Regions from separate parts of the Homo sapiens genome. Here region 2 is linked to region 1. A link means that fine-mapping ties the variant in region 1 to the expression of a gene that starts in the linked region. Tissue or cell type: tibial nerve. Region 1 holds a variant in brackets; the other region holds the start of a gene. All regions are shown on one strand. Distances are from middle to middle.

Region 1 (9,695 bases):
AGGCAGGAGAATTGCTTGAACCCGGGAGACAGAGATTGCAGTGAGCTGAGGTGGTGCCACTGCATTCCTGCCTGGGCAACAGAGCAAGACTCCATCTCACACACACACAAAAAAAATGCATTTAAACCTTGCAAAATAAATAAGTCAACACCAAGGACACCTTGCTGAATCATTTTAGGGTTTATAATAACCAGCCACTGGAGTTAGAAACAAAACTGCCTTTAGCAAATACTCCTCCCTAACACTGGCTTTCTGAAACCCCATGTTTTATTCCTTTGAGTGCACAGGCACAGTGTGGAGGCTAAAGGGAGGCTTCCTATTATCTAGGCCAGCTGTTTTCTAGCTAACAGAAGAAGGAGGCTGTGTTGGGATCGGTGAGGGATGCAGCGCGGGGAAGGCAGAGAGTTGGTTCTGGGTCCGACTTCCACCAAAGAAAATTCAGCTCTTATGCTTTATTTTCTGGGCTTCCAGGTGAGCCTTCATCTGAAGAAAGGGTTCCATAGCTAAAAATAAACACACATGTTGAAAAATCCCCAACCTACCCAATCCTTTCATTTTAAAAAGGAGGAAAATGAAGGCCTGTGAGTGTAAGTGACTACAGCAAGTGAGAGAATGAGTAGCCAAGGCAGGAGTGGACCAGCCACAGGCTCTGAGCAACATGCTCTCATGCGTGCACTCTCTCCAGATCGCCAAGTACATTGCCCCTACAGGACGTGTCCCTGTCATCCATCATAGGGTTCAGGTCTATCCCCTGCAGCTCTTCCTCGCACAGCGCACAGCCATATAAGCGCAGGCTTGCAGGTAGGGTGTTGTTGCTGATATAATTTTAAGCGTTTTTTCTTTCTTTCTTTTTATTTCTTTTTTTTTTTCTTTCAGAAACAGGGTCTTGCTCTGTCACTCAGGCTGGAGTGCAGTTGCATGATCATAGCTCACTGTAACCTTGAACTCCCAGGCTCAAGTGATCCTCCCACCTCAGCCTCCCAAACAGCTAGGACACAGGCACATGCTACCATGCCTGGCTGATTTTAAAAAAACTTTTTTTTTTTTTTTTGTAGAGATTGGGTTATTGCTGTGTTGCTCAGGCTGGTCTCGAGCTCCTGGCCTCAAGCCATCCTCCCGCCTTGCCCTCCCAAAGTGCTGGGATTACAGGCATCAGCCACCATGCCCAGTCTATTTTAATCATTTTTAAAGTACTAGACACAGAGGCCACAGGCAGAATAGTAGCAAAAGCCCTGCCTATGTAAGATGAAAAATAAAAATATTCTGAAGTTTTCAGAAGTCAGTACTCCAGAAGTAAATCAATAGAAAATAATATTCGGTTGATAAAAATTGAATTTATACTCAAATTGTGAAAGAAGCAGGTGGAAAGGATGTGAACACACCCTACAGGATCTGTCTGCTGGCTGTGACCTTCATTCTTACAGCCTTCACTCATAAGGTAGCAAACCACAGCTGAGCTGTGTGGGTTCTGGCCCGGGTGCCACTCTGAGAAAACATCACGGACTTCCTAGACTCTGCAGTCACTTGGGGTTGCATTCTGGATGAATGCCACAGTTGCTGGCTCCTGGAAGGGAGGCTCTACATTTTCTAAAATGTGACAAAAACCTAAAGGGGCATAACAAAAACTGGTAAGGGGGGTGCACTATGCCAGCTATCCCTGGGGATTCTCATTTACAAAAGGGCTCCTTTAAATAAACTCTTAAAATAGTCCTGGTTTACCACTCACTAGTTGGGTGATTTAGCAAGTTATTTTATCTATACGTATCTCCATATTCTCACCTGTAAGATGGGGATAATTATGATACCTACCTCATGGGATGTTGTGAAAATTTAAGGAAACAGTTCCTGATTCCTGACAAATATTAGTCATTATTGTTATTATTCTTTAAACAAGAAAAAAAAAGACATTAAGTACTAAATAGAGAGGCCAGGGGCAGGAAAGTAGCAAGAGCTGGGGAATTTGACATGAAAAGTCAAAATGAAATGTTTCTGAAGCTTAATGTAAGTTGATAGACAATAATAATTGGTTGATAAAAAGTGGAACTTACAGATTGGGATCATAGCTAGCTCTACCATCTTCTCTGGGACCTCGCCGCTCAAAACCCGGACATTGAGCCGCAGCAGCGCCCTCACCTGGGAACTTCTTAGAAATGCAGAATGTCAGCACCCAACCCGGACTCTCCAGGTACTGAATCAGAATTCGCATTTCAACAAGATTTCCGGGGAATTTATGTGCATGTTACAGTTAGAGGAAGCCTGCTTGATGGTATGTACTGAGAGTTTAGCATGTAGGTCAAAGGAACAAGACCTCATTCTCTAGTTACATCTCCATACATTATCCTAAATCTTACACTGCTTTCCATTAGCTAAATGGTCAACTAACCATCTGTTAAGCAGATGCCCCTTTAAGGGACAGCATAATACTTAAGTATCTAAAGCAACTAACTCACCTTTTGTTAGTAATTTCAATAATTTTAAAATATCATCATCAAGTGCTAACATTTATAGAGCCCTTAAAACATGCAGGAATCAACATAAGGTGCTCTCCATATGTTCTCATTTAATACTCACACCCCCCACTGGAGTAACCATTACTATCCCCATTTTATAGAGGAGAGAACTGAGGCTCAGAGAGGCTACATCATTTTCTCAAGACCAAATTAAATGGGGGAAAGAAGGCCTTTTTGAAATCCATTCTCTTTCTACAAATTCAAACCCCACTCCCACAACATCAAAATAATGTATCTGTGCACTGGGGAGCAGCAATAATTATCCCCCTTTTCAGATAAGGAAAACTGAGACACAGAGAGCCAATGAATTATACAAAGTCACTGACCTGAAACTTAGGTTAGAACTGGGTCCATTACAATTCAACAACTTTTTCAAATTAAAGAATTCTGCTGCTAGAAATGGCAATGATAATGCAATGGCATTGGAGACAATGCCATGGCATTTTATTTCTGTTGGAAATAAAACACATCCAACAGAAAGAAGGATTTCCATGTATGAAGCTTTGTACAACCAAACCAAGGCACCTCAAATTTTGATCTCTGATCGTAAGAGATTATGAGGATGTCAGTTTCTTTGGGAAAACAGAGTTTCCAGACTCTTATTGCCATCGCCCCATCAATGTGGCAACTGATGCTTATCCACACATCTCAGCTAGCATCCTACATGACATTACTTCTGCATGCCTGTGAAATTCTCCTAACTACAGCCTCCCTGATTTCCTCACTAGGTCTTTACCCAAGTTTGATATCCAAATAGTTTAGAACTTGGCAAGATGAGTCAAAAATCTTTCCTTGATAGCCCCAGTGTCTATGGAAAATCAGAGACACAGGTTTTAGGATCCAGTGATGAGGGCTCCTTGCCCAGGCTCCACCCAGGGAATGCCTCCCTCCTCCATCCCTGGAGAGGGCAGCAGGGAACAAAGCAGGATTTCTTGGCTAAAAATGCTATATTAGTTGCTAAGATGACAACAACAAAATACCACAGGCTATAGAAGTCCAAGACCAAAATGATGGCAGGTTTTGTTTCTTCTAAGCCCTCTCTTCTTGCTTGCAGATGACAGCCCTCTTGCTGTGACCTCACATGGATGAGCTTCATTGCACAGATGTGTCTGGTCTCTCTGTCTCTGTGCCCAGATTTCCTCTTCTTATAAGGACACCATTTGATATGGTTTGGCTGTGTTCCCACCCAAATCTCATCTTGAATTGTAGCTCCCATAATTCTCATGTGTTGTGGGAGGGACACAGTGGGAAATAATTGAATCATGGGGCAGTTTCCCCCATACTGTTCTCATGGTAGTGAATAAGTCTCATGGGATCTGATGGTTTTATAAGGGGTTTCTCCTTTTGCTTGGCTCTCATTCTCTCTTGCCTGCCACCATGTAAGACATGCCTTTCACCTTCTGCCATGATTGTGAGGCCTCCCCAGTCACATGGAACTGTGAGTCCATTAAACCTCTTTTCCTTTATAAATTACCCAGTCTCGGGTATGTCTTTATCAGCAGTGTGAAAATGAACTAATATACCATTCATACTGGATTAGGCTATTTTAACTACATTACCTCTTTATAGAGCCTGTCTCCAAATATAGGCACATCCTGAGATACTGGGAGTTAGGGCTGCAACATAGAAATTTGGAGGAGACATAATTCAACTCATAACAGATGCTGAATGGATCACTAAGTCCTAGGGCTATGCTGAGGCCTTCTGGTCCATTCTGGGTTCAATAAGAACTAGAATTCACAGTAATCTGAATCTCTCGGCCTCATGACTCAGGGCACTCTGGGGGAGGAAGGAAGAGAACAAAATTCCAGGTCAGACACAAAACACGCCCCTTCCCTTCTCATTTCTGCTCCATGGGATCAGAGAAAAACAATTCTCAGCCTCACTGTCCACCAACCCAACCCACCTTCCTTCCCACACTCCGCTCATCACAGCTTAAGTAAGGCCACTCTGGTTTTTTGAGAATTTAAGTGGCACTCATAAAACAGTCTGAGTCAGAGACACAACCAGTTACTCAAAAGTACAAACTAAAGAACTCAGATCTGGCAGCCTGCAAGGCTTCTCCTGCCC[T/C]GGGGCAAGTGGTGATCAGCCCTCAGGAGCTGGCACGCGGTTTTCGAAGCAGCTGATCTGCCCAGCAGTAGGGGCTGGGGACCAGAGCCAGCCTCCGGGCCAGCCCACTCAGCCCGGGGCAGTGGCACCGTAAATGCCAGCGAGTAGGAGGGAGGAAAACCTGCACAGCGTGAACCTGTCAGGAGGTGCTCACTTCACACAGGGTGTGTGCCAATGGCTTCTAAAAACAAATTAGGTATTTGGGGTTTATAGGTATCCAAATCATGACACAATAGAAACAGAACAAGAGTGATATTTGCTGTTAAAAAGAAAACCTATGCCCATCAATAAATCCATTAACTTAGATAGCCCTAATTTTCAATTTTAGTAATCCAGCTATTCCTCATATCATCAAGTTTTAAGCTTGGTTCTCAAAACCTTCTCATATTAATATAAAATTATATCATCTTCCTTAGGGTTTTAAAAGATCATTTTGCCATTTCATTTGGTATGTGATAAATAAGTGCTTTAAAGTAATGATTTTAAATCAATATATTATTGAATATACTGAAGATTACATTTTAGAGATCTCTTGTGGTTGCAAACTAATACAACTATAGAGGAAAATTACACCAGCAAAAAGACAGGAGGAAACATTAATCCCCCACATAGAAATCTCTGTATTAATCCCCCTATTAGTTAATTAACATATACCAAAAAAAAGAATCACTAAGACATTTAAGGAAAACAAAAGCACAAAATTGGACCAAGATGAATACACAAACACATGATTCTAGAGAAAATAGATAATTTAAGCAACAGAAGAAAAGAACTAAATAAAAATTCAAATTGATATCCTCTAAGGCATTTGAGAACAAACTGTATCCATGAAGCTAATCTGGGAAAAAATTAAAAGAGCAATCACAGAAAAAGAGAGTTTACAGAAATAAAAAAATAACAATTATGAAAATAAAAAGAAATGCAACAGACAGGCTAGAAAACAAAATGTCAAGAAACCCTCCCATAAAGTAGAGCAAAATAAAGGAGATTAAAAATGTAAAAAAAAAAAAAAAGAATTAAGAGATATGGAAGAGGTCCAATATCTATTGAATAGGAGTTCCAAAAAGAGAGGACAAAGAAAGTAAAGGAGAGAAACTGAAAAAAACAGAATTCTCCAGTCCTGAAGGAAGACACAAGTTTCAGAATGAAAGAACAAACTAAGTGCTGGACAGGATGAAGAAAAATGACAAAATAGCTAGACATACACTGGTGTAATTTTAGAACTCTGAACATACAGAGAACACCCTAAAAGCTATCAGATACCAGTTCAGGTTACCAAGAAGGGAAAAGGACTCAGACTACCATGAGGCTTGGCAGTCACTGTGAAGTCAGAAGAAAACAATTCAGCATGTGGAGAAAATAAGAAATTTTCAGACAGGGAAGGATTCCACTTACCTCTTATGCACCCTTACTGAAAAAAATTACTTGAAGACTGACTCACACAGGAGAAAAAACTAATTCCCAAAAAGAAAACTGCAGATTCCAAGAAAATGTGGAATTCATTTAGAAATAAAATGGGATTAGGGGGAATCCCACAGTGACAGCTATATAACAGATCTAGAAGCCAGTGAGTCCAAATTAGAAGATAGAGTCTCCAAGAAAACATCTTCAAGAAAGTAGATTTCATTCAACAAGTTATGATTCAGAGCCTGGACGATCTTAGTAATGCTATTAATAAATTCATTTTGCTTAGCAAAAAAAAAAAAAAAAGAATTGGAATTAAAAGCTTTATGTAAATTAAAAATCTGTATAAAAAACCATAATCTAAATATGAAGCAAACTAAAGAGTCATAAAATTTTGAGAAAAAAAAAGGAGGTTGTTGGAAAAGGGCCCTTGGATGATGCTTTAATAATGCTTAAACATGTACTTTGAGCAAGACAGATTTAATGCTCAGAATAATTCCTTCTCTAAGGGTCCAGTCACAGTGTCTGCTTCTGCAGTGAAGAATATTTGCATAATTTTAATGTTACAGATAATTTATATTGGTTTTCAGCTCTAAAAATCAACTTATAATAAAAAAGAAAGCATAAAAGTTAGATTTAAAATATATAAACCTTGACAATGTAAAAGTAAGGTGTCTTCTGACAGCAGTCAGAAGACAGAAAGTGTGGGTAGGAGAAGAGAAGTGAGGTGGAAGGGTGATAATGTCCTCATTCTACCTAATAGGGGTAAGAAGGTATTATGTAGAGTCAGATAAAAAATAGCAGTATATTATTTAGAGTTATAAAATGGCTCTATATCAATGGTAGATTTAAAACTAATAAAACTCTGGAAGTGAACATTAAAACCAATTGAGAGACATTGTTGAAATAAATATAAATCCAAACATATTATTTAGAATTATAGTATTACCATCCAGAAGTAAAAAGTAAACTTTTATAAACAGTTATGTCTGCTATAAAAGGGCAGCCCAAAGGATCCTTGTGGTGATGAAACTGTTGTATATCTTGACTGAATTGGTGTCAATATACTGGTTGTGATATTATACCACAGTATTGCAAGATGTTGCCCCAATCCATGAGAGAATTAAGCAAAAAGTTATTTTAATGATTCTATTCTTTGTTTTTTTTCAGATGGGGTCTCACTATGTTGTCCAAGCTGGTCTTTGAACTCCTGGACTCAAGCAATCCTCCCACCTCAGCCTCCCAAGTTGCTGGGATTATAGGCACAAGTCACCACATCCAACCTGTGACTCTACTCTTGATTCTACCAAAGAAGTCTAACAAGCTAATACATTTCCAGATGCATAAGCAATAAGTTAATTCATTACATATGAAGGATGCATTCGAGCATTATGGATTACTTCTCTTGTAAAACCTCACTGAGAGAGAATGATCTACATAGAACACTACAAATAATCACTGAGGTAAATTAAAGAAAACCTAAATTAGTAAAGATATATATCATGTCTATGGATTATAAGGTTCAATATATAAGATCCTTATTTCTCTGAAATTAATTCATGAATTCAATGTAACCCTAATAATATTCTCAGCAGGTGTTTTAGATAAAAGTTGACAAACTGGTTTTAAAATAGACATGAAAATGTAAAGGGCCTAGGATTGCCAAAAACAATTAAAACACACACACACACACACACACACACATACACTCAAAGATGGAGAACTTACTCTACATGGCATAATTAAGATGATGTAGTATTGCCATAATGAAAGACAAATTAATCATTGAAACAGAATAGGAATTCCAGAAACAGATCTACACTTATAAATGATTGACTGGTTCTTTGCAAAGGCCCCAGTGCAATTCAATGAGGAAGGGAATCTTTTCAACAAATGAGGCTGGAACAATTATATATCCCTGTGAAAAAAAAAAATTAACCTCAACCCCTACCTCACACCATATACAAAAATTATTTTGAGAGGAATCATAGATGTAAACTTAAAATCTAAATCTCTAATAGTGTCATAAAAATATAGAATACCTTTGATATCCTGGGATTAGGCAAAAACTCCTTGGATAGGATAATAAAATCACAAAAATGTATAAAAATTGATACATTAAACTTCACCAAAATTAAACACTCCATTCATCAAAAGACACTATTAAGAAAATAAACAGGCAAACCTCAGGCTGGGAGAAAAGTATGTGCAAAACATAAAGCAGACATATAACCTGTATTTAGAATACATTTTAAAAAAAACTCCTACAACTCAATAAGAAAAATAATGCAGGTTAAAAACAGAGGGGTAGAGAGACTTGAATAGATACTTCACAAGGTTAGATATGCAAATGACCATTATCCACATTAAAAAGTTCTCAAATAATTAGCCATGAGGTAAATGCAAAGTAAAAATCACAACAAGATACCACTATGCCAAATTAAAATACCAAATATTGGTGAGGATGTGAGACAATTGTAACTCTAATACATTTCTAGTGAGAATATAAAATGGTTACAACAGTTTTTGAAAAATGTTTGACAATTTTTCTTATTATAAATATACACCTACCCTCCGACCTAGCAATTCCACATCTAGATCTTTTACCAAGAGAAATGAAAACATAAATCCACAAAAAAGACTTTTCCAAGAATGTTCACAGCAGCTTTATTCATATTAGTAAATAGCTATAAACAACAAGAATGTCCATCAATAGAATGGATAATCAAATTGTGATATACCTATATAATGGAATATTACTCAGCAATAAAAAGGAATGAACTACTCCCATACACAACAAAATGGAGGCATCACACAGACCTTACACTGAGTGGAAAAAGCCTTACACAAAACAGTGCGTAGTATATGAGTCAATTTATGTGAAGTTCTAGAAAAGGCTAATCTAATTAGGACCTTGATTGTCTGGGAGTGAGAGGATTCACTGACAAAGAACACAAGAGAATTTCTGGAGATATGAAAATATTCAATATTGTGATAGAGGTCTATGGGTGACATAGGTGTATCTATCTGTAAAACTTCTATAGCCAAGATTCTTACATTTCAATGTATGTCAATTATGCCTTAAAAACAACTGTTAAAAATAAGAGAGGATGTAGAAATTTAGAAAAAATAAGAATGGCAGAGTGTTGAAGCTGGGCGATGGGTACTTGAGGTTCATTATACTATTTTTTTATTGTTTATCATAGAAATATTCAAACATATGCAAAGTAAAAAATGTACACTGAATTTTAACTATGCATTACAGCAACATGACAAGATGTTTAGAATTCTAATAGTTTGGGCTTAAAAAATTCAGCTGGTTGATTTTCATTACTTTAAGTCTTTATGAATAGTAAGCTAAAACATAAGATTTCAGTTGTCTATTTGCAAATATTTTCTCTGTAAATACCACATTGCAAGTGAAAGCCTATATTGCTAATAACGAAAAAGACAATCATTAATACATGATCTTTAAAAAATGTTGGCTTTTGAAATACTACAGATATTCTAATGAGTTACAGAATTTTAATGAGATGAATGAAACATACAAATCTGGAGAAGATCAACTTGAGAATAAGAATTTGCAGAATTAAAATAATTTCAACGATAAAAGTGATTCATTTGTATTTTAACATCAGTGTTTTTTTGTTTCTTGTCATTAATCACTGGTCT
Region 2 (9,695 bases), 39 kb before region 1:
ATATAGTAGGCCCTCAATGAATGACAGCCGTTCTTCAAGAACAGTACTACATCTACAGTCAGAAGCTGCAGAGGCTGTTTCGTACGTTTACTGATCTATTTCATTGATATATGCTCACTGATATATTTTTGCAGAAGCTATTTTGTATATTCACAGATCTATTTCACTGATATATGCCCACTGATATATTTTTGCGGAAGCTATTTTGTATGTTCACTGATATATTTGTTTTGCCCACTTTTCCCATCTTCTTGCTAACTCATTGCTGTTGTTAAGTGGGGGAAAACAATTTCTTCCCTTGCAACATCCAAGGGTTGTTTTGAGCTTTACAAAGGACACATATGCATGGGGACACTTGGAAAATCATGGAGTCCAGCACAACTCAAAGCAGGGATTGAGCACCAGACAATAACAGGAAGCTGCAGCATCGTGAGATCTTTCTGGCAGCTGGAGGAGGCCTTTGCCAAATATTCCCAAGCACCCTGCCAGGAGCTGCTCCTGAACACTCTGGGGCTTCGTAGCACAGGAACATGCATGGCTGCAGGAGGGCGCACTTCCTCCAAGCACCTGTCCTAAACAGGATGCTCTGAACACACAGTGGCTTTCTGGGAATCCCACGTCCTGTGCAGCATCTATAGTTCTGGGCCTCTATTGTTTCACAGCATGGAAGGCAAACAATAGAAATTATTTTTAACAATAATAAACAATTTTTTCTTATTTTATTATTTTAATTCAGCCTCCATAGAGACTGTCAAAAATGACTAATGCTGACTATATTGCAATTCTATTATTATTACTGAAATTAACATTTAGTGGATGCTTTTGTGTGCCACTATACCAAACACTTTGATATGCACGTTCTCATTCTTTAAATTTATTTTTATCTTTTTTTACAATTTTTAAAATTGAGATAGGGTCTTGCAAGTTTGCCCAGGCTGGTCTTGAACTCCTAGGCCCAAGTGATCCTCCTGCCTCAGCCTCTCAAGTAGCTGGTACTATAGGCCCACACCACCATGCCCAGCCAGGTTCTCATTTAGTTCTCATAATCAATACTGCCCTTAGACACACGCAAGCAGGGCCCCTGCCCTAACCCCATTCCTTCCTCAAAAATGTCTAAGTGCGCTCTGGTACCTGGGATCGCTGGGGCCAGCAGTGCTGTCTGGATGGGGAATCTGAGCCTCCTCTTCACAGATCTCTCTAGTGATCCTCTGCATCTCTCCCATACTGTGCAAGGGGTTGGCCAGATGCCCCAAGGAGCCCCAGGAGTCATGCCAATGGGTTTCTTGGGGCCCTGGAGCTGGCTCCATTCTAGGGGACAAGCCTAGCAAGCAATCACTTCCTCAGGCTGGTGTGGCATTTCTTTCCCAAGACTGAAACAGATTGAGCTGTTGACACACTGCTTTGGGTGACTCAAATTGTTTATATAGACAGGAGCCCTACAAAAAAAATCTGCCCAGGGCCCCATCTACTCTAGGGATAGGCCTGCTCAAAGCAATCCTATAAGGTATGCATTCCCTGCCTACCTTAGGGACAGAGAAACGCACTTGGAATCACTAACTTCCCAAAGTAACACATTTAGTGAGTAGAAGAGCTGGGAGTCAAATTCTGGAATGTCCAACCTCAAAGCCACACTTAACTAATCTCCCAGATTTCCTTATCTGCCTCCACTAAGATATGGATATCCCAATGATGATTACCTTTCCTGTATCCAGAACTCTCTCGGATACTGTTAATTCTCTTGTTCCCAAGTGAGGGAATCTGCTGATAAGTCATTATCCAGCATGCTTTCATTAAACTACAGCTTACCTGGCTTCCCCTTGCCTTCCTGCCTTCTCCTCCCAACAGATCTTATCTCTTTCAAGAGCAACAGTGGCTCATTCCAAAAATATCTGATTTGAGTCTGTTTGAGTAGAAACATTCCATAGAAGCATCGAAGTCATTCAGAATAAAGTGTTAGCTCCAGCAGAAATCTACATGTTTCATTTTTATTCCTATTTGTGGAATAAAACATTTTTTCCTCAATAAAGGGATTCTAGGTATCCCCTAGTATGTGGATCTGATTTTTGAGGGAGGTGTCATTTGCTACAATAGGCATACTCAGCTGGTTCTGAACAAAGTCTTCTTAGCAGAGCTTGTAAGGGGACTGGGCAGAAGGCATGGCTTCTTCATCCCCGCTCCCTGCTCCCCTAAAAAGGAATGTGCCTGGAATCATGAAGAGAAGACTGTTAAGAGTAAGAGACAAGGAGCTGTTACCATCAGCAGCTGTCGAAGTCGGTATCCTGTCTTGCCTGAGCACTGATCTGCTTGTCAGCCCTCTCTGTCCCAGCCAAAGCTCTGTATAGGCACAGTGAGATACCGCTTCACACCCACTAGGATGGCTAGAATAAAAAAGTCAGATAAGGCCGGGCGCGGTGGCTCATGCCTATAATCCCACCACTTTGGGAGGTGGAGGCAGGCAGGTCACCTGAGGTCAGGAGTTCCAGACCAGCCTGGCCAACATGGTGAAACCCCATCTCTACTAAAAATACAAAATTAGCCAGGTGTGGTGGCACATGCCGGTAATCCAAACTACTTGGGAGGCTGAGGCAGGAGAATCATTTGAACTCAGGAGGCAGAGGTTGCAGTGAGCCGAGATCACGCCATTACACTCTAGCCTGGGCAACAAAGCAAAACTCCGTCTCAAAAAAAAAAAAAAAAAAAAAAAGGCAGATAATAGCAAGTGTTAGCAAGGATGTGGAGAAACTGGGACCTTAATATGCTGCTGGTGGGAATGTAAAATGGAGTAACTGCTTTGTGAAATAATCTAGAAGTCCTTCAGAAGGTTAGACATAGTTATTATATGACCCAGAAATTCCACACCTAGGTATACACCCAAGAGCCCTGAACATATCATATGTCCACATAAAAACCTGTATATGATGATCCTTTTGATGTGTTCACACACGCGTGTGTGAGGTGAGCCACCCTCGAACCTTGTTATGACATTGGCACATTACCCATCTGACACGAAAAAAGAAAAAAAAACCTTGTATATGGATATGCATAGAGGCATTATTCATAAAATCCAAAAGTTGGAAACATCCCAAATGTCCATCAGCTGGTGTAAGCAGAAACAAATTGTGGAATATCTATACGGTGAAATAGTATTTGGCCATAACAAGGAATAAAGTACTGACACGTGCTACAACATGGGTAAACCCTGAAAACATGCTAAGTGAAAGAAGCCATAAACGAAAGACCACAGATTATAAATTCCATTCACATGAAATATCCAGAATAGGGAAATCTAAGAGGCAGAAAGTAGATTTTGATTTCTTAAGGCTGAGAGATGGGGATGAAGAGGTTGGGGTGGGGAGGCGATAGCTAAAGGGTACAGGGTTTCTTTTTGAGGCAATGAAAATATATATGTAACATATCAGTTGCATACTAAAACTCGCTGAACTATAGACTTTAAATGGATGAATTTTACAGCATATGAATTATAACTCAATAAAGCTGTTGAAAGCTGATTGCAACAAAACAGAACATCTTAACTCCAGTACTTCAGCTAAACTGAATCCAATTCAACTCTGGCTGTCCAAGAATGACGAGGAATGCGTTATGCTTCCTGGCTTATTTGACTTAACTTCATACATTCGTAGGGACCATGGTTAATTGCCTTCTGCTTCCTGTACCAATTCTAGGTCTGACTTTGACAAGGTGTGAGCAGTTGGGTAGGTATCATCTTCATTAACAAAGGCACCATGATAACTTCAAAGTCTGAAAACTCCCAAGTGCAATAACTCTATCCTCAGAGTGGGCCTTCTCCACCTCTTTCCCAGGCAGAGGGATGAGTGACACGTTTTAATGAGCTTCACTGAAAAGAAGCCTCAACAAGTTCTCTCAATATTAAAACACTTTCTTTTTATTTTATTTCTTTTTTAGAACATTTCACAAGACGAGCCCTCCCTACACAGTGACACAATTTGGACCTCAACTTTACTTATCTTTTGCTAGCCTCCATCTCCCCCCTTGAATATTTCCTTTCCATTCATCCTTTGTCATATGAAATAATAACATCTACAGATAGAGATCTTTCTTTTCCATCATACTTCCTATTACTGACAATTATTCATACCAAGTTTGGAAAGAGATACATTTGTTACTGAAGATCATAAAATCCTGGACAAAAATATCCTTGGGATTTAGCTCCGTAGCTACACTTATGTTACATTCTCCATCTCTCCCACCCTCACCCCCATTAATTATATATTAAGGATAGTGTTTCCTTTGAAGAACACATTACAGAAGAATGATCTGGATAGTACTCTCTTAATTACGCCAATCACAAAACACAAAACCATGTCCAGAGAGGGTTATTTTACTTACCAAAAGGATCAACGCTGTTACATACACGCCCACGTGGGCAGTAGTCCTTGGGACAGAGATACAGCAAATGAGTGATAGTGGCACGCCTATGAGCGGTGAAGGAGGTCCCAGAGACCCTCCGGTCCTCAACAATCAGTCTCTTTCTGTTCGAGCCCCTGGCACTGGTTCTCTCAGATGAGGTGACTTTGCTTTTCTCAGAGCTGCACAATTTCCCCAGACACTTTAGACCAAGGAAGGCAGGCATCTTGGCATGGATTTCCAAGCAATGAGAAATGGGGAGTGGGGACCCAAGGAGCGGTGCTGCCCCACAATTCTCTCTGTTCCCCTGGCTCCTTACTGTCTCCTTTTCTCACTGCCCAGCAAAGAAGATTAAGGGAGATGTATTTAAGTGATTACCCTCAAGAGCTTAGGGCACCATATTCTCAGTCAGATGACTAGGTATAAAAACAGCCACTACCAGGAACTCGAGACTTTCAGTCTCAGACATGAATGCATATTTGAAAATCAGATTAATATCCAGAATAAGAGAAAGAATATAACTGCAATATCTAAAAGAATTCTCCTGCAAATACTCCTAGAATATTCAGTATCATCTGGTAAGAGTACTGAGAATAGGGCTAGGGATATATACACATATTTTATATAATCTAAAAATGTCTATCAGAAAAATCCCAGGGTAATAATTCCAAGTTTTCCAGTATTTCAGATCTCACAGGTGGAGGTGGGGAAGGCTCGATAAAGATCCTCAGCTTCAATTCGTGACAAATCCAGCTCTCAGCCATAGTAAACGATCATTTCCTTTCCATTTTCTAGAAGGGGACCCCTCCCCTCAGTACCAGGAAAATCCTTCTGCCTCATTCCATTAAGCCAATGTTTACTGTCGTAATGTTTCATGGGTTTTCTGTGATGGCAGAATCATATGATGGAGACAGAATTAACATGTAGGTAGCTTCAGCTTTACACAAAGTTACAAGCTAGAAGGACCTTCATGGAATTAGTGTATTGATATAAAAAGGACAACCCCAGTAATTATCATTTACTCTTTAACATCCACACAGTAAGATGCAGTACAAAATGTGACCGTCTACAACCATACAAAAGTCCCAAGTCAAAATGAATAAACTCACACTCCTTCTCCTGTCATTGGGCTATTATGTTCTAATATAAATTCCTTTTCATTAAAACCCTAGAATAGAATTATAGAGCTGACAAGGCCATCAAAGGTAATCTAGTCCAGTAGTTCCCAAATATTGCTGTGCATAAGAACCATCTGCAGGTGCGGTTGCTCACGTCTGTAATCCTAGCACTTTGGGAGGCTGAGGTGGGAGGATTGCTTGAGGCCACTTCGAGACCAGCCCTGGCAACATAGCAAGACTCTGTCTCTACAGAAAAAAAAAAAAAAATTAAAACATTGGCCAAGTGTGGTGTCATGCATCTGTAGTCCCAGCTACTCGGGAGGCTGAGGCAGGAGGATTGGTTGAGTCCAGGAGTTTGAGGTTACAGTGAGCTATGATTGTGCCACTGTACTCCTAGGTGACCGGGCAAGACTCTGTCTCAAAACAAAAAATCTGTAGAACTTTTGAAAAATACAAAATATATATATACGGGATTCTTGCACGTAAAGGTCAGGAACTTACATTTCTTTTCTTTTTTTATACTTTAAGTTCTAGGATACATGTGCACAATGTGCAGGTACATATGCATACATGTGCCATGTTGGTGTGCTGCACCCATTAACTCATCATTTACATTTCTAAACATTCTCCCAGACTAGTGCCAGCACTCAGGAAGCACTGATCTACGCCAGCCTTTAAGATGAGGAAGGTGAGTCTCAGAGAAGATGTGACTTTCTCAGGACAATGCAGAGAGCCTAGGGTGGAGCCGGGTCTTCTGCCTCCCATGCTGACTCTTCCTATCCAATAGTCGGGTCCTTCCACAAAGGCCCCAGGCAGATGAAGCAGAGAAAGGAAATTCTTGCTTCTTTTGTTACAAGTTCCTAATCTATTGGCAACACAATTCAAGAACCTGAGAATTCCAATTTGCTAGAATTATTCTATGCCAATGTGAAGCACGGTGGGAATGGAAGAAACAGACGCTGTCTAGAGGCACTCAGACTGAGGTGGACTTGGGGAAAGTGGGAACATGGGACTTCTACCACTACTGAAGTCACACCTCAAAATTTCTGCTCCAAAATTCTGGGAATTAAGCCCAACACCAACCTCCAAAGTCTTCCTCTAAAAACAGTTTACAAAGCAGGTCAAACAATCTGTATGTGTTCTTTTCCCTGTTTGCCTATTTTGAGGAACCTTCAGATATACAATGTAAGATGTTCTATCAATGTTTCTCAAAATGAGGGTAAGGGATAAAAGACTAAACATTAGGTGCAGTGTACACTGCTAGGGTGATGGGTGCACCAAAATCTCAGAAAGCACCACTACAGAACTTACCCATGTCATCAAACATCACCTGATCCCTCCAAAACTATTGAAATTTAAAAAAAGAAAAGAAAAGAAATACAACTGGAAAAAAAAAAAGTGGCATTCATCCATCAAAAAAAAAACCGTATTTCCCAAAATGTGATTTCTGGGCCAATTTGTTTAAGATGGAGATCCCCGAGGGCCACCTCAGCCCTACCAGGTTCTTCTAGAGTGTTTTGTAATAAACATCGTAGTGTGGGAACCCCTGCCTTTCATTGTTAATTCTTTCTTGCTGGGTTTCCTGGAGCTCTGCTCTTTGCAAACTGAGAACCTGAGCAGCTACTTGCTTATATGTGCTTACATGGTCTTTTTGTGAAATATAGATGTGTTTATATAGAGGAACATGATACAGCCACTTTGAAGGCAGGCTCTGGAACACAGTAACAATGCACAAACACAGACTTTGGACAGAAAAGAGACTATTTCCTTCAAACCCAGCATCTTCCTGACCTGGAAAAAAGGTAACTCTTCCATAACAAAGCTGTTCGGCTTTCTTGGTCCCTAAACTCATCAAGCATTGCCCACAAAAACTATTTCCACTGCATTAACTCTACCTCAGTGCTTAGCCATTGTAGCTGCAGAGCATGCACAGAACACTCCTAAATTTTTTTTTTTACAAGTTTACAGATCCATATATTTAGTTCAAGATGCAACTGTCTTCTAAGAGACTGCGAAAAGGAAAAGAAAATAAATTCTTATTCAATAACGGAATTATACGTAAGAATTTTGATACTTTTTTAGGTCAAGATGCAAAGCAAACTACATATGGATCATGAAGACGGCTAATGAGAAAAACAAATGGTTGCTTGCTTTTAAAGACAACCGAACTACATATAAATGTGAGGGGGCTGACTCCATTCTCAGGCAGTGGAGAGGGATGAGAGTTCAGATGCTGGCAGCAGTGACTGCAGACACCTGTGAACTAAGTTCCACTCCCCAAGTGCTCAGAGCTTTTCACTTACCCTCCTCCACATGGCTCCAGTTAAATACCTAGCAGAGGCCAAGCCTCCAGTCTTAAAAATAGACTTGCAGTGGTATCTGCCTGACAGCAACCTCTTCACCCAGGAAAGCACAGTTGGGGAAGACCCTAAAGAAGCACCAGTGGATTCAGGTCTTTCACTGCTGCCTTCTGCCACAGCCCACATAAAACTACAGTCACAGCAATCACAAAGGAGTGCAGTGGGTTTTGTGACCGTTTCTATGGTTCTATGATATGATATCACAATGCACCACATTACAAAGCTAATGATAATTACAAATGTTGAACTTCTGCCCAAGATTTTGCTGGCCTGTGTATCTTATCAGATAGGAAATTCCTAATCTTTCTAGAAGCAGTTCCACTGTACCTACTCAAGCTCTTCTATGATAGACTATGAAAATGAACCATCAGTGGGAAAATTCACCAAGGGGCACTGAGGACACCCAGCCTTTGCATGCTGTAGGAGCTCAATAAACACCTGATGTGATGAGCCCCAGCCCAAAGCCAGGTGTTTTGGGGCTACACAGTGCTCGGCGAACAGATGCCTCAATTACTGCTCTTTCTTCATCAGTCACAGTGATTCTCCACAAATGAACATGGACTTTATTCTATATAGTGATTTAAGTCTTTTTTCTCAGACAAGTATCCCCTCCCTGCTTAAATCATCTGCTAGGATCTACTTGCTTCTCACTAAAGAATAAAATTTTCTCAGAGAGCAAATTGCCACCTTACGATGCCAATATTTCTGGAATTTAGTTTGCTAAGGAAATGTTCTGCAGTTAGCCTGTGGCCTCATCAGTGATAATGGGGTTACTTTTCATTTTTGTTGTTGTTTTTTAATCAAAATGAAAGAACAAAAAGAGCTCAGCATGCCTTCCAAAAACACCTGCAGTTGCTCACAAGTCAGGATGATCTTTGCTGCTAAACAGAACAGATTCAGTGGGAAGGCTGTGAAAAAGGGGTGCAATTGGACTTCCAGACAGTGACGACTCGGCCCATTTGAGGTTCTCCTGCTCAGCAGCGGCTATCCCTGCTCCCTGCTCCCCGTAAGTCCTAAAGTTCAGTCCTTCTGCATGGTCAGCCCTGGGCATCTTCTCTGCAAAGCCCAATGTTTAAAGGGTCTTACCCATCCCTCCAAAGCAGGCTGTGATTTTCTGAGCATACTGGCATATGCTCCGGTCTGGGCAGGTCTCCTCTGAAAGGCCTGCTTCCTCCATCCCTCTGCATGCAGCTGCTTCTCTTCCCGTAATGCCACTTGCCCAAGACCTGCTCAAAATGGAACAAGCAGCCAAACACCCTCTTCCATATCTTCTCCATTAATAATTCAGATACTACATAAAATCTGCTGAGCATTCAGGATTGAGAGCACCATGGCACTCTGAGGACTGAAGCGTAATTAGTTTAACAGGCACCAAGTGTCTCAAATTACTCTCTGACAATACACTGCATAGGCAACGTTCCCAAAGAGGAATGAGAGGCAGGCTTGGAATGACTTCAAGGAAGCAGCCACAGATGAAGATCAGCTCAGAGTGGGGTCACAGGCACCCCCTGAGCTCAAACTCCATATGTTAGACAAGACTCTCCCATGAATCTCCTCCGTAGAATCAGAGCACTAAGTTGCTGCCCACACATCACAATCCACCAGGCTGCAGTCTTTGTCAGCGGCCAAACCTTCTCTATGCCCTCAACACATCTCTTCATCCTTCCCCTGCTTCTTTTGCTTTTCCTGAAATTCCTCAACCTCCTTCCCATTGGAACTTTCTGAAAATCCACCTGTGCTTAAAAATGCAGCTCAAACATTACCTCCTCCATACAGGCTTCCAGAATCACTCTGGCTAGAATCAATTTCTTCCTATCTTGTCCCCAGATAG

Alleles and levels. Alleles are on the strand shown, and positions count from the first base shown. SD is a standard deviation of normalised expression in the study named.
For the expression in tibial nerve of the gene that starts at base 4,687 in region 2, C is the high allele of the variant in region 1 and T is the other (moderate effect, 0.42 SD a copy in GTEx).

The links. PIP is the estimated chance that this variant, and not a neighbour inherited with it, causes the effect.
Region 2: ABLIM1 starts here. The variant in region 1 is fine-mapped to the expression of ABLIM1 in tibial nerve (GTEx, PIP 0.97).

What each region holds. Positions count from the first base shown.
Region 1 is chr10:114,692,792-114,702,486 of GRCh38, forward strand. It overlaps a transcript of ABLIM1 not described here. Among named protein-coding and RNA genes, the nearest start is that of ABLIM1, 39 kb to the left of the region's middle. The variant T/C (reference allele first, on the strand shown) is at 4,581.
Region 2 is chr10:114,653,589-114,663,283 of GRCh38, forward strand. It overlaps ABLIM1 (actin binding LIM protein 1), which reads right to left and starts at 4,687. Exons shown (of 23, transcript NM_002313.7): 1 at 4,369-4,687. The coding sequence starts at 4,612. LOC124902588 (small nucleolar RNA U13) reads left to right here and starts at 2,907; the gene lies at 2,907-3,006.